2 linked regions of the Homo sapiens genome follow. The protein of the gene in region 1 interacts with the protein of each later gene in a biochemical or structural test. Each region holds a gene or a part of one and is shown in the gene's direction. Other genes may lie near its edges.

Region 1 (7,969 bases):
AGGCCAGGGCAGGCAGATAACGAGGTCAAGAGATTGAGACCAGCCTGTCCAACGTGGTGAAACACTGTCTCTACCAAAAATACAAAAATTAGCTGGGTGTGGTGGCACGCACCTGTAGTCCCAGCTACTCGGGAGGCTGAGGCGGAAGAATCACTTGAGGCCAGGAGGCGGAGGTTGCAGTGAGCCGAGATCACGCCACTGCACTCCTGACTGGGTGACAAAGTAAGACTCCATCTCAAAAAAAAAAAAATTCGCCTCCTAACCTCACTGAGTTAACTGATCAAGACCTCTCATGCTCTGCCGCTGCACAGCTGTCCCTCCAGCGCCTTGTCTGTGTGTGTGGGGGGTGGCTGGTGTTTTGAATATCTTCCGGTTCCCAGAGGCTAGCTCAGTGTCTGACAGGGCCCTGTGGGAGTGTCTAATTCTCACAGCATCTCCGTGCAGGAGGGAAGGAGAGGGTCACGCCTGGGCCCTGAGGCATCTTGTATCTGAGGCCCCCACATCAGCACGGATCTCCAGAGGCATATACTGTCCTGCCGACTGGTCTGCTTTCTGTCTGATTGAAATTGGAGGCTCAAAGCCAAGACCTTCTCACTTGCAGTGAAGAACCCTTATGGGGCAAAGTTTTCCCCTCAACCTGCTCTATCATGAGCTCCTCCTGCTAAGTGGCAGAGCTTAGCCCGTGAATCAGAGGATACGCTACATTTCAAACCTTAGGAGCAGTCCTGTCACCAAAATTCAGCTGGTCATTGTCAGTTTAACTACCCACTACGTAACCACTCACGTATGAACCTGCAACAGCCACCAATCAAGTTGAATTCTCAAATATTTGCTACTTCATCCTCAATGTTTTCCCATTTCTTTTTTTTTTTTTTTTTGAGACGGAGTCTAGCTCTGTCGCCCAGGCTGGAGTGCAGTGGCGCGATCTTGGCTCACTGCAAGCTCCGCCTCCCGGGTTCACGCCATTCTCCTGCCTCAGCCTCCCAAGTAGCTGGGACTACAGGCGCCCGCCACCACGCCCGGCTAATTTTTTGTATTTTTAGTAGAGACGCGGTTTTACCGTGTTAGCCAGGATGGTCTCGATCTCCTGACCTTGTGATCCGCCCGCCTCGGCCTCCCAAAGTGCTGGGATGACAGGTGTGAGCCACCGTGCCGGGCCAGTGTTTTCCCATTTCACGTGCTGCGTGTGAAAATCCACTGCGTGCGACACTTGCGCTATGTGCACTTTATGTACACATCTCATACTTTGTTAAAAAGGCACTTTCAGACAAACATATTATTTATTTATTTAGAGACATGGTTCACTCTGTCACCCAGGCTGGAGTGCAGTGGTGTGGTCTCTGCTCACCGCAACCTCCACCTTCTGGGTTCAAGTGATTCTCCTGCCTCAGCCTCCCAAGTAGCTGGGATTACAGGTGCAGGCCACCACGCCCAGCTCATTTTTTTGTATTTTTTTTTTGAGATGGAGTTTTGCTTTTTGTTGCCCAGGCTGGAGTGCAATGGCGTGATCTCGGCTCACCAGAACCTCTGCCTCCTGGGTTCAAGCGATTCTTATGCCTCAGTCTCCCGAGTAGCTGGGATTACAGGCATGTGCCACCATGCCTGGCTAATTTTTGTATTATTAGTAGAGACGGGGTTTCTCCATGTTGGTCAGGCTGGTCTTGAACTCCCGACCGCAAATGATCTGCCTGCCTTGGCCTCCCAACATGCTGGGATTACAGGTGTGAGCCACTGTGCCCAGCCATTTTTTTGTATTTTTAGTAGAGATGGGGTTTCACCATGTTGGCCAGGCTAGTCTTGAACTCCTGACCTCAAATGATCCGCCTGCCTCGGCCTCCCAACGTGCTGGGATTACAGGCGTGAGCCACCGTGCCTGACCTGAGTATATTTATAGAAGTAGAACAGGCACAGGACTCTCCACCCAAAGTCACCCTGGTGCCTCTCTCCCCGGGGTCTGACTTAGGCCTTCAGCACCACGGTGTTTTCTCTAGATGGCATCTCATGAACACTGGGGGTCTCTTGCCTCAGCCTGTCCCTGGATTCCCTTTCATGGGGAATGTAAAAGCTCCCTATTTAAGCTAACGTGTAGGCTGGTGGGGCTGGATGTGAGGGAGGGGCAGGTGGAGAAGGAAAGGGCAGCATCCCTCAGATCTGTGTGGAGCAGGATCGGAAGGAAAGGCACACTCGAGTCGGCCAGGACCCGGGGAAATGAGCGAGAATGGTCAGCTCTGGGGCGGTATATAAAACTGGGGGTGGGAATACTTCCATATACTCCCAATTCCACAGTGGGTGAACTGAGTAAGTTTAAAAATAAGATAAAGACATAACGAGGTGAGGCAGGTAAGTTCAAAAATAAAAATGAAGGCCAGGCACTTTGGGAGGTTGAGGCGGGCGAATCACAAGGTCAGGAGCTCGAGACCATCCTGGCTAACACGCTGAAACCCTGTCTCTATTAAAATTACAAAAAAAAAAAAAAAAAAAAAATTAGCCGGGCGTGGTGGCAGGTGCCTGTAGTCCCAGCTACTCGGGAGGCTGAGGCAGGAGAATGGCTTGAACCTGGGAGGCGGAGCTTACAGTGAGCCGAGATCGCGCCACTGCACTCCAGCCTGGGCGACAGAGCGAGACTCCATCTCAATAAAATAAAATAAAAATGAAGACATACCTTTCAGGGGCTGTGGCCGCACTGTCCAGGAGGGAGGCCCGGCCACAGACACCATGCTGGCCGTGCGCTCAGCACCTATACATACCTGGGCACCTTCCCCACAAGGTGTCACAAAAGGGAGCCCAACAGCCATTTTAAACATTTTCTTCACTCTTATGAGAATTGCCACGAACAAATCTAAGAGATCATGGCAAAGAAAAGAATGAAATGAAACCAGAACATTTCAGCAGCTTTTGCAAAGATGTCAAGAGAACCAGTCCAGGAGTCAGACTGGCGGCATCCTTCCAGCTTCTTGTCATGAATTCTAAACCTCACATCCAGACTCCAAAGCTTAGAGAGTTAAAGAATCAGCTACTGGTCACCAAGCTCACGTGTGCAGGATGAGGGTCACAGCCAGGTTGGCTGCCTTCCAGCCCTGAGCTTTCTTGGGGGTGTGTGTGTGTGTGTGTGAACCACCTTCTTTTTGAGACGGAGTTTCTTTTTTCTTTTTTGAGATGGAGTTTCGCTCTTGTTGCCCAGGCTGGAGTACAGTGGCACGATCTTGGCTCACTGCAACCTCTGCCTCCTGGGTTCAAGTGGTTCTCCTGCCTCAGCCTCCTGAGTAGCTGGGATTACAGGCATGCACCACCATGCCTGGCTAAGTTTTTGTAATTTTAGTAGAGATGGGGTTTCATCATCTTGGCCAGGCTGGTCTTGAACTCCTGACCTCAGGTGATCTGCCTGCCTTGGCCTCCCAAAGTGTTGGAATTACAGGTGTGAGCCACCGCGCCCAGCCAGAGTTTCATCTTGTTGCCCGAACTGGAGTGCAATGGTGTGGTCTAGGCTCGCTGCAACCTCTGCTTCCCGTGTTCAAGCGATTCTCCTGCCTCAGCCTCCCAAGTAGCTGGAATTACAGGTGCCCACCACCATGCCTGGCTAATTTTTGTATTTTTAGTAGAGATGGGGTTTCACCACGTTGGCCAGGCTGGTCTTGAACTCCTGACCTCAGGTGATCCACCCTTCTCGGTCTCCCAAAGTGTTGGGGTTACAGGTGTGAGCCACCACGCCCGGCCAGAACCACCTTCTTTAAAGATGATCAGGCCGGGTGTAGTGGCTTATGCCAGTAATTCCAGCGATATGGGAGGCTGAAGCAGGAGGATCACTTGAGCCCAATTCAAGACCAGGCTGGGCAACACAGGGAGACCTCTTCTCTACATAAAATACAACAATTAGCCAGGCGTGCTGGCGCCTGTGGTACCAGCTACTTGGGAGGCTGAGGCGGGAGGATCACTGGAGTCCGGGAGGTGGAGGCTGCAGCGAGCTGGGATCGCGCCACTGCAGTACAGCCTAAGCAGTGGAGTGAGACCCTGTCTCGAAAACAAATACCTAATAAAGGCAGTCAGAGGAGAGGTTTAGCAAATTGCTAAAGAACAAATCTGAGATACCGTTAGTTTCCTTACTTGCAATCTTCATCTGCCAAAATGTCAATTCTGTGAATTGCGGACTAGTCAAAAACTTAAAGAAAACCCACTTTTGTGGAGGTGGGGTCGCTTTGCGTTTCCCAGGCTGGTCTGGAACTCGGCCTGCGCCCCTCAGTGCCAGGGCTCCAGGCGACGCTCGGGTGTCGGCAGCAGAGTGGACGCAGGAGCAGCTCGGACCGCGCTCAGAACACTCGGGACGAGGCCGCGGCTCCGCAGGCCTTGCGGGCTGGGGTCCCACGAAACAAAGGCGGCAGCCAGTGGCCAGGACGGGCAGCGTGGTTCACGGGGCCGTGGCTCCCTCGGGGGTCGCGAGCTCGGCGCAAACGAGCCCCTCTACCAAGGTCGCCTAGAGTCGCGACCCCGACATGCGGAGCCGCCCCAGGGGGGTTTCTCCCGGGTCCCTCCTGTCCCGAGGCGGCCGCTTTCTCCGGGGGCCGCGCCCCGCGCCCCAGCAAGGCCCGACCCGCGCCTGCGATTCCGCCCCCAAGGCGCTGCCGCACCGGGCCCCGGCCTCTTCCTCCGAGGATTCTCAGGAATTGCTGAGACTTGCGTGCCAGTGCGAGGCCCACAACACGCACACGCGCCCGCGCCCGCCAGACCCCGCCCCCGGCACCAAGCCCCGCCTACTGGGGGAGACCACGCCCCCAAGCGAGACCTCCCTCACCGAGCCACGCCCCACCAGGCCCCGCCGCTGCGCCAAGACTGTGCTTAGCCGAGCCCCGCCCGCCGGGCCCCGCCCCGACCCCGAGACTACTCCCGCCAGGCCCCGCCCCCGCGCCGAGCCCCGCCCAGTAGTCCCCGCCCACGCACCTGACCACGCCCACGAGCCGGCTCGAACACGCCCGCGCCGCTGACTGGCGGGTGGGGTTGTCGACACGTTCAACCCGTTCTGCTGGCTCGAGAACGAAGTAGGCCGTCTCGCTCTGGGTCTCCAGGCCCGCGACCGTCCGCCAGTCGTCCCGAGGTCAGTAGCTCCAGCGGTGCGTCAGCGTCTAGCCAGGCCTCGCCCACGCCGGCCTTGGTCGGGCTTCTTGTAGACGCGGGCCTGGCGCTATTGAGGCCGTTGCTGCGCGGGCGAGTGGCGCGCTCCCGTGGCGGGGCGGGGTCGGGCGGGGCAGGGGTCCGGGGCTATCGAGGCGGGGCCGAGGTTGCGCTGGGCAGCTGCGCCGCCGGGCGGACGTGGCGCGCCTTGAGGACGTCATCGCGGTGCACGCTCCCCTTTGGGGCTTGCCGGAAGTCCTTGCCCGGGGCGCGGGGCTGCGCCTGCGTGGTTCGTCCTCACGTGGCCGTCAAGCCCTCTAGTGCCTTAGATTCCAGCGAGCTACGCAAGCAATCCTGGCCCAGCCGAGCTTGCTTCCCCAAATCCCGTAATCCTTGACCTTATTCCCCCAAAGAAGCGGCCTCCCGGGAAGGAGCGCCCTGGCGGAGAAGACTCGAACGGCTCCCACAGCCGGGCGTTGGGGGAAAGGTGGGCGGTCTTGGTCGTGCGAGGTCGGGGAGGGAGGGTCCTCCGCTCTCCATTGCGGAGCTTCGCTCCGGGACCACCGGGGGACCGGACGCCGGGCCGCGAAGCTGCCGCCTGGGGCTGCGGGGAGGAGAGCAACATAACTGGAATGGCACTTAGGGGCCGGTGTCAGGGTTGTCACCGGGGTTGGCGGAAATGACGAAGGGGCCCCAGGCACGTCGTGTTACTGGGCGAGGTTCCAGCCAAGGTGCCCACGCGCCTTGGGGGAAACCAGAGGACTTCTGCACCGTTTCCCGAGGACAGTTTGGCAGTGTTTCAGAAGGGCCTTAGAACCAGGCAGGCCCCCTTCTAGGATGGTGGAAAGCCTAAAGATCTGAAAACGGTCTCAAGTGTCGTCTTAGCGATTGGCTGACTAAACCGAATGCAAGCCGGAGACTGCACACGATGTTGCCGTTAACAGTTACACTGGGCCGGGCAGTCAGAGGCAGGCGGATCACCTGAGGTCAGGAGTTCGAGAACAGCCTGGCCAACATGGTGAAAACCCGTCTCTACTAAAAATACAAAATTAGCCGGGCGTGGTGGCAGGCGCCTATAATCCCAGCTACTTGGGAGGTTGAGGTAGGAGAATGGCTTGAACTCAGGAGGCGGAGGTTGCGGTGAGCCGAGATCGTGCCACTGCACTCCAGCCGGCTGACAAGAGCGAAACTCCTTCTCAAAAAAAAAAAAAAAAAAAAAAAGTTACATTAGGCTGGGTGCGCTGCAGCCTGTAATCCCAGCACTTTGGGAGGCCGAGGCGGGCGGATCTCTTGAGCCCAGGAGTTTGCGACCAACATACTGAGTTTGGCCAAAATAGTGAGACCCCCGTCTCTACAAAAGATAGAAAAAATTAGCCAGTTGCGGTAGTGAACGCTTGTAGTCCCAGCTACTTGGGACGCTGAGGGAGGAGGAGCACTTGAGCCCTGGAAGAGGAGGCTGCAGTGAGCTATTTTCTCATCCCTGCTATAACGAATTTGTCACAGGCTGTTTTATAGGCCTGGAGCTCAGAAGCCCGAAGTGAGTTTTAGGAGGTTAAAATCAAGGTGTTGGCAAGGGTAGTTCCTTCTGGAGTTTCCCAAGGAGAATCTGCTTCTTTTCCTCTTCCAACTTCTAGAGGCCACCTTCTTCCATCTTCAAAACCTACTGTCTCTGCATAAGAACTCTCATGATTATATGCCGGCCGCCCAGACACCCCAGGGTAGCCTTCACATCTCAATATTCTTAATATTTGCAAAGTCCCTTTTGCCACTTAAGGTAACACCACAGGTTTGGAGATTAGGAGGTGGACATCTTTCAGGGCCATTCTTATTTTAAAAAATGTACTGTCGATAAGAATAGTTAAAATGTAAAATATTTGAAGGGATTTATTCTGAATCGAATATGAGTGACCGCGGCCGGTGACACAGCCCTCAGGGGATCCTGGGAACATGTGCCCAAGGTGGTTGGGGCAGTTTGGTTTTACATGTTTTAGAGAGACATGAGGCATTAATGAAATACATTTAAGATATCCATTGGTTTGGTCCAGAAAGGCGGGACCAAACAAAAAAAAAAAGATTTTGAACATGCTTCCCGAGCTCAGGCATGAAGAACTCTTGACTGACAGAAACGGAGGGTGTGTCCAAAGTTTTGAGGACGGCCGAGCGGCGCTCCAAAACCCGTCCTCACAGCCTCGCCCCGTTCGCCTCAGCTACAACAAATCATCGTCAACCTGTTCCACCTTCTCCAGTCTGGTAGCAAAAAGGGGTGTCTCAGGTTTGCTTTATTTTATTGTTTGGGCAATTCCTGGAATCCGGCCTGCTTGTGGGAGGAGGCAGGGGCCGGTCCCTCGAGGGTGGTGGGAGCTGCCAGAGCTGGAGGGATGGTCTGGGGGAAGGCGGCTGTACGGTGGAAAGGCTGGTTGGGGCCAGAGTGGGAAACGGGATGCGGACGTCAGGCTTCACCCCCGACCCAGGGGGGAGTGGGAAAGCTGGGGTAGTAGCTGGGACGAGGCCCGGGGGCTGAGCCCAGAGGGTCGAGTGGGCGACGACTAGCGGGCGCGGCCCCCAGGGTGGACTCCCCGCCAGCCCCGGCCTGGAGGCTCCGCCCGCCCCCGCCTGGGCGGAAGGAACGCGGAGCGGCTCTGGCCTTGGGTCTGCGGCGGCGGCGTCGGGTGAGCGTCCCGGGCGGAGCGGGCGCGGGCGGGGGCAGAGAGGCAGGGGAGACCCCCTTCGTGTTTTTGTGAGGTTTCCTCCCAGCCCTTTAGTCTGCAGCAGGGTGTCCAGAACTAGCAGGTTCGAGGGACTCGACGCGGGCGCGGGCGGGGGTCCCAGGGACCGGGAACTTTTGCGCGTCGCCTGAGCGTGGCCC
Region 2 (7,107 bases), on another chromosome or scaffold:
ATCGTACTAGGGAGGAAGAAGCGGGTGAGAAACAAAACTTCTTTCCATTGTCCTGCCCGTTTCTGCGGACTTGTTCTGAGGCCGAGGTAGGTTCACACTCCTGCTCCTCCTCCTCCTCTCTGGTAGCTTCATAAGGGGCGTTTAGGCCGGGGAGTCCTTTCCTAGTAGAGGCAGCTTGGGACTCCTTGGGGAGGAGTTTGCGGGACGGGGCTGGAGAGGGAGGAATGGGGAGGGACGTGAAAGTCCCGTATTTGTATGAGTTAACGACTTTACATTCCCACTCAGGTTTACTTTGCGCAGCTGGGCACAGATGCCAGCTTCTATTGATTAGTAGGCTTGGAGGGGGACCACAGAATCGCCGAACCTAAGGGAAGCCCTAGGAGGCCTGCACTTGCCCACAACTAAGAAAGCTTTGCTAGTTATTCAGGCTAATCACCAGCTTTTTGAAGCAGGCCTTAGTTTTTTGCAAGCGTAACTAACATTTGGGGATCGGTGTTTTCTGTTTACTCTCCTCTGCCTCCTCACCCTTAACCCACCCTCAGCCAGTGTTGTGCAATTCTTAGAGACACTTGCCAACAGCCTCTTCTCTAAGCCTTCCTACTGGAAGGTTGGGATCCTCCGTTTTCTCGCTCTGAGACAGCACGTCAAATGCTAATAGCAGCACATGAGTAAAGCGCAACATCTTTATTAAAACAATTTCAGCACCACTCAGGGGGCTAGGGAAATCTCAGATGAGCCAAGACCCTCCCTCGTGACAGTAAAAATCTTATAATCAAGTCATAATGTAATCAGTAGAAACCCAAGGGACATCATTATCTGTGGCACAGGACCACCTTCCCAGAAGCAGCCTCAGGTATTCAAGACTTACTTAACCACAGAGCCACTAACAAGTTTTGCAAGAGGATAGGTTTATTACATACGCTTCAATTCAAGCAATTCTTTTACTGATGACAAGCAGAGTAAAATAATTTTTGAATTTATGGTAATAGTCAATGTAGGTTTCCTTCGAACAGCAACTTTCAGTGGCCCCTTTAAAGTTAGCTCTGATTGTCTAGAAAGTACTAGTATGGAATATAAAAGTTGTGTGGGCCCGGCACGGTGGCTCATGCCTGTAATCCCAGCACTTTGGGAGGCCGAGGTGGGTGCATCACAAGATCAGGAGTTCGAGACCAGCCTGGCCAAGATGGTGAAACCTCGTCTCTACTAAAAATACAAAAATTAGCCGGGCACGGTGGTGAGCACCTGTAACCCCAGCTACTCGGGAGGCTGAGACAGGAGACTCTCTTGAACCTGGGAGGCGGAGGTTACAGTGAACAGAGATTGCGTCACTGCACTCTAGCCTGGGTGACAGAGCAAGACTCCGTCTTAAAAAAAAAAAAAAAAAAAATTGTGTGGTGCATTGGAAAGCTTCCAGGCCGGCGAATGCAATGAGTTCCTTGGGCAATACATGTCTCTTTCTCTGTTCCTCAGTTGGCTCTTCTTTAATATGAGGGGTGGACAGAGTCTCAGAGGCCCCTCCCACTCTTGTTCTATGACTCCATGGAGTGGTACGATGTTAGTAACAGGACATGAGGCACTCTAGTAATGTGGAGATGAACTATCGTTTGGCAGAGAGGATGGAAAAAATCATTCCAGGAAAAGAGGAATGGCTTTAGCTATTGTTGAAAACAGATAATCAGGTTATAAGCAGGCAAGAGTAAGAGGTTTGTCAAGTTATTGTTGGAAGCATTGGTCACTGTGACTCAAATTAAAGTAGCTGGATAAAAAAGTGGACCAATGAAGGTCAGTGAAACCTTTCTTTAGGAGTTTTTATTGAATCTGTATTTAAGCAGATTCTCTGTAATTCTCTGTAAACAGTTATTCCCGGAAGAATGCCATGAAATACTTGGGAAAGAGGGAATGGGAACAAAGAGTGAGTGGGCACAAAGCCCAGAGTTGGTTGAAAAGCAAATGTTTAATTTTTGTCTTTGTTTGGAAATACAGGCATGTCAGCAGGACTTTGTCCCCACTGTCCTTCAATCAGTAGTGTTGCCTCTTCCTGGAGACGTGGTTCTTCTTGCCACGTGTGCTTTTCCTTCTTTACCTGTTACTTCCGTTATTGAATAAGTTCATGCTTATAGACCTAAAGTGTTAGAATAATAAAGAAATATAGAAATTATTTAGTCCATTCTTCCCATCATCTAATTTTATAATTAGTCCTAAGACAGAATGATACATATATACTCTGTATGAAGGAGGAAAGTGCTCTAACACTAGGGTCCTTGGAAACAGGACCCGTGCATCCCGTGTCTGTGTGCAGGGACATTATTGGCTTGAGGGAGAGAGAGAAAAAAATCTCCAGGAAAGGGGAATGACTTTCAAGTTAAAGCTGTCTGAACATTTAAAAAATATATGAGGTTTTTTGCAATTGGCGATTCCTTCATTTGTATTAAAATTACTGACAAAGATGTGATGTTCCTTAATCATAGAATATAATTCCTTGTTGTATTTTAAACACAAATGACTAAGTGCTTAGATGCATTCTAATGAAATAGTAATTTTTCCCCCAAACCCTACTTTTCATTTCAACAAAACTTCCTTGTGCCAAGTTTAAAAGAAAAACATAAAACTGTCTTTTTGCATTGTGGGCAGATTGTGTATCCTCCAAAGGTTGTCCAGTGAAGGCCCAGAGGCAGAGAAGGGACCTAACTATATTCAGAGGCTGCTGGTTGCCCCACCTCAGCACTACTGCAGAACTCTAAAATCAGAGGCTGCTCTGTTTGTGTGAGTCGGTGCTTGAATTGGTGCTTCAGGCCATGGGGCTGTGTGTGTGCAGGCGCATATGGGTTGTATGCTGTGGCAGGGTACCGCTTTTCGGGACTCAGAGGTGGTGTTGCTTGAGCTAAGCCTGGAAAGACAGGTCAGTTTTCTCCTTGCTTATGAAGGGTTCAAAGTCTGACTCCACCATTCATCTGCTGTTTGTTCTTGGAGTTTCCTCATGAGCAGAGCATATTTACATAATGCCTACCTCACACAGTCCTGGTGTTGGTTGAATGTAGTCATGTATGTGAGAGCTTCACAAAATGAAAGATTGCACTGAATATTATAATTATTGTGATTTCAAGTGCATTTGTTTTACTAGCAGGCAGCCTGTCTTTTCTTGACACCTTCTCAAGTGCAGCCAGACTGAATACTTGGCAGCTAGGTGGGTGACAACAGAGGATTGAGGATTTTTAAAAAGATAACACTGTCCTAGATCCAACACCACTGTGGGCAAATGCTGGGGGTCTGTGAAACAGTTGGTACCCTGCTGCTGTCTGATATTGGAAACTATGAGATCTATAAGGTGATCCTGGTGACCTTTGGCCCACTGTTTTTACGCAAGCAATGGATCTACAGCCCTGCTTTGATGATGGAGATAAGCAATTTTGCAACTACATTACAAGGATCAGAAGATTGAATGTTCAGGGTTAGTCTCTTGTGGACAGGTAAAGATGGAAGAAGGAGAAACCCAGGAAACATGGCAAGCCTGCTTCTGGGGGTTAGAAGCTGAGAAGTTGAGTGTAGGGGGAGGGGCAGTGTACTAATAGCTGTCACACAACCTTCTCTGGAAGTGCTTTCCTGGCTGTATGAAATCGATGGAATAACGTGCTTAGCATCCGTTCATGAAACCAAATGATGTGATACGATAAATAGGATGTGATATGATAAATGATAAATAGTACAGTGGAAAAGCATCCTACTGGAAGACCATATCTTACTCTGTGACATCTTCCAAGGCAGTTCTTGGAGTTGGCCCAGGGAGATCAGAGATGCTATCTTATGGATCCAGACTATTATGTGTGAATAGGGAAACCTCAGTCCTGCCATGAACAAGAGTAAGCACCACAGACAGCAGAAAAGGGCAACTTTTGGACAGAAGGCCATGTTTCTCAAACTTTGTCTTCCAGAACAAATCTCTAATCCATTCAGGTGGGTTAATATCTAACCCAATCATGCCCAGCGAAAAGGTGAATGACCCTCCTCGTTTGTTCAAGAGCAGTGTCCTTGGTTTTCATGTCCCTGCCAGGACTGGGACACTATATATTAGGAACACTATATAATCAGAACCTGGAGAGGCCTCCAGGTTCACACAACTGGAACCCATCTCCAGGAACAAACAGCTGGAACCCATCTCCCGTTGAAGGGAAACTGCCAGATTTTTGTAAGATTCTTCCTCCTGGGTAAACTATTGTTCAATTTGTTTTATATATTATTTCTAGCCATCCATCCATTTTAATGAAACCATTTTCCTCCCTTTAAAGCCTCCAGGCTCAAGCTCATGAATTAAAAAGAAAATGGATCAGATTCTAAAGTTTAAAATGAAAACAGGTTTCTTTTGGGATGGCCTATGTGTGGATAAAGAGAAATTAGTGAGACTGGGAGGAAGTGGAAGTTTAGGAGGGATTTCTAAATTGTGATAAAATCCCCAAAGGCCTGGGGGAGCCATTTGCTGAAGGCCATCGGGAGTCCTCCCCCGTCGTCCACCCCTGTTACAGGCATTACACGTGGCTTAACAAGGAAAGAAACAGTATGTTTTTAGCATTGTTTCCTTCTAACCTTCCCTGCTAATTTCTCTTCTTAGAAAAGTTTTGGATGCTCTTTCAAACAAAGTGGAACACATCCCAAGATCAAAAGAAGGCTCACTGGCAGGTTGAAGGGAAGAAGGAAGGAAAAGCAATAAAGGGATGAATATGCCTTGGGTGTTAGGCTCTTACTTTGGGGGATTTTGCCCTAGGATGTATAAAAGTGTGAAGCCACATTGATGAAAATGATAACTATAGTTACTCATCATAAACTGTCAAGTTAACTCCCTGGTGTGTAAAATTTGATGAATCTTTTGAATACTGAACATTGCCTGTGGGGAGAGGGAGAGAATAATTCTTGTGAATACTAACAGATTCATTTGATACAGAAGATAAAGTTACTCTAAAGAACAGTTGGGGCCAGGTGTGGTGGCTCACACCTGTAATCCCCGCACTTTGGGAAGCCGAGGTAGCCGGATCAACTGAGGTCAGGAGTTCGAGACCAGCCTGGCCGACATGGCGAAACCCCGTCTCTACCAAATACACAAAATTAGCCAAGCGTGGTGGTGGCCGCCTGTAATCCCAGCTACTTGGGAGGCTGAGGCAGGAGAATTGCCTGAACCTGGGAGGTGGAGGTTGCAGTGAGCCAAGATAGCACCACTGCGATCTAGCCTGGGCGATAGAACAAGACTCTGTCTCAAAAAAAAAAAAAAAACAGGCCGGGCGCGGTGGCTCACGCCTGTAATCCCAGCACTTTGGGAGGCCGAGGCGGGTGGATCATGAGGTCAGGAGATCGAGACCATCCTGGCTAACAAGGTGAAACCCCGTCTCTACTAAAAATACAAAAAATTAGCCGGGCGCGGTGGCGGGCGCCTGTAGTCCCAGCTACTCGGGAGGCTGAGGCAGGAGAATGGCGTGAACCCGGGAGGCGGAGCTTGCAGTGAGCCGAGATTGCGCCACTGCAGTCCGCAGTCCGGCCTGGGCGACAGAGCGAGACTCCGTCTCAAAAAAAAAAAAAAAAAAAAAAAAAAAGAAAAGAAAAGAAAAAAAGGACAGAGAACAGCTGGGACTAATTCCACTGACAAAAAGCTGACAGACAGTTACGTGTTTGGGTACAGAAGGATATATCTATAGGACTTTTGCCACCAGATGTGAGGCTTTGCACCCTTGGCTTAGGCAGATTCACTTTTACACCACAAACGATCTGTCTCTTACTGGTTTTCTCCCAATTCCATTTTACCTTGCTTTTTGAGGAATTTAGAGTTGAATATATTGAGAAAGTTTTGAGTGAGGGAGCAGATGTTAGATATTGGTGGTTTTGGTGTACGCTTGCTGAGATTTGGTTCCTGGATGTCTTAGGGAATCAAGATTACAGGCCCCCAACTAAACTTATACAAAATTTGTCTCTGTAACTGAGGGTCACTGGACCTTTGCTATTGAAACTAGCAAAGCCTCTATTATGTTTAATGAGAACCATGAAACTTCAGATTTTTAGAGCTAGCAACTCTTTTATTTTCTTGATGAACAAACCTAGGCCTGGAGAGAAAAATGAAGTCAATTACTTAAAAAATATTAAGGGTTATAATAAGGCAAGCATGTTGATTCAAGGTGAATAATATGAGTTCTGTGGAATATACACCAGTAAGAAACACTAACAAGTAAATACTTCATTGTTCATCCACGATCACGTGGGTAATGGCATGTTTGGAAATGGCACCCGTGAAACCTGACAACAGGTCGGTCTTTATTTTGTGATATCCTTATGGGTAGATTCTGAACTTTGTGGCTTTTACTTTGGCACTTATATCTAATGAGGTGTCCTTGGTCTTAATATCTAATGCAGAGCGAGTTTGGACAGAGATTCTAAACAGGTTCACCAGCTCATACTCCCTTCTGTGAACAGCAATATCCCCACAAGTTATACAGCATTGGCACCTCCTGCAAGTACGGTATTTCCTAGAGAAGACATTAGTAACATTCCTATCCACCACTGCCACCTAACGACTCTTTTAGGTACTAGCAGCTCTGGTTCCGTTTCCTGATTTCTGATTTCTGGGATTCTGGCACCAGGCAGAAGAATGTTGACTGTGTAAGGCAGACCTTTGACATTAGAAGTCAGTATTTGTTCATTACAGAGCAAGAGACTTAATTGATTACAAATCAATAAAACTTTAATAAGATCTTCCAAAAAACTAGAAACAGGAAACACACCCAGGAGACTGAAAAGCATGATGTAAATGTGAAGAACGTGGCAAGTGGGTGGCTTGGCAGCCCAGCAGCTATACTGGAGCAGCTGCATGAGTGAATACTTGTTACTCCTTTAGGGCTGGCTCTCCATTCTACAATCATGTACCTCTTTCTTGATAAACTCCCAAGAACACACTTTCAGCATGGAATTTCAGACTTTTAGAGATAGCAACTCTCTCAAGTATGGACAAATGTCGGTGCGGACAAATTTGATGCACTGCTGAAGAATACCAAATAATATGCTAAGGAATTTTTTCATTCCACAATAATGGAGTAAATAGCAGCTGGAAATGTTTGCATTAAGTTCATAGATTAT

What was found.
Region 2: the proteins of RNH1 (region 1) and ANG are reported together in a solved structure, tested with the Homo sapiens proteins (3 studies listed by BioGRID and IntAct, with this or other methods).

What each region holds. Positions count from the first base shown.
Region 1 is NC_000011.10:504,230-512,198, reverse strand, and holds the start of RNH1 (ribonuclease inhibitor), read left to right. Parts: upstream 1-4,956; 5' UTR 4,957-5,086; exon of another isoform or gene 5,087-5,737; intron 5,738-7,197; exon of another isoform or gene 7,198-7,202; 5' UTR 7,203-7,375; intron 7,376-7,722; exon of another isoform or gene 7,723-7,772; intron 7,773-7,969. UniProt on the Homo sapiens protein: Ribonuclease inhibitor which inhibits RNASE1, RNASE2 and angiogenin (ANG). May play a role in redox homeostasis. Required to inhibit the cytotoxic tRNA ribonuclease activity of ANG in the cytoplasm in absence of stress.
Region 2 is NC_000014.9:20,684,673-20,691,779, forward strand, and holds the start of ANG (angiogenin precursor), read left to right. Parts: upstream 1-4,091; 5' UTR 4,092-4,202; intron 4,203-7,107. UniProt on the Homo sapiens protein: Secreted ribonuclease that can either promote or restrict cell proliferation of target cells, depending on the context. Endocytosed in target cells via its receptor PLXNB2 and translocates to the cytoplasm or nucleus.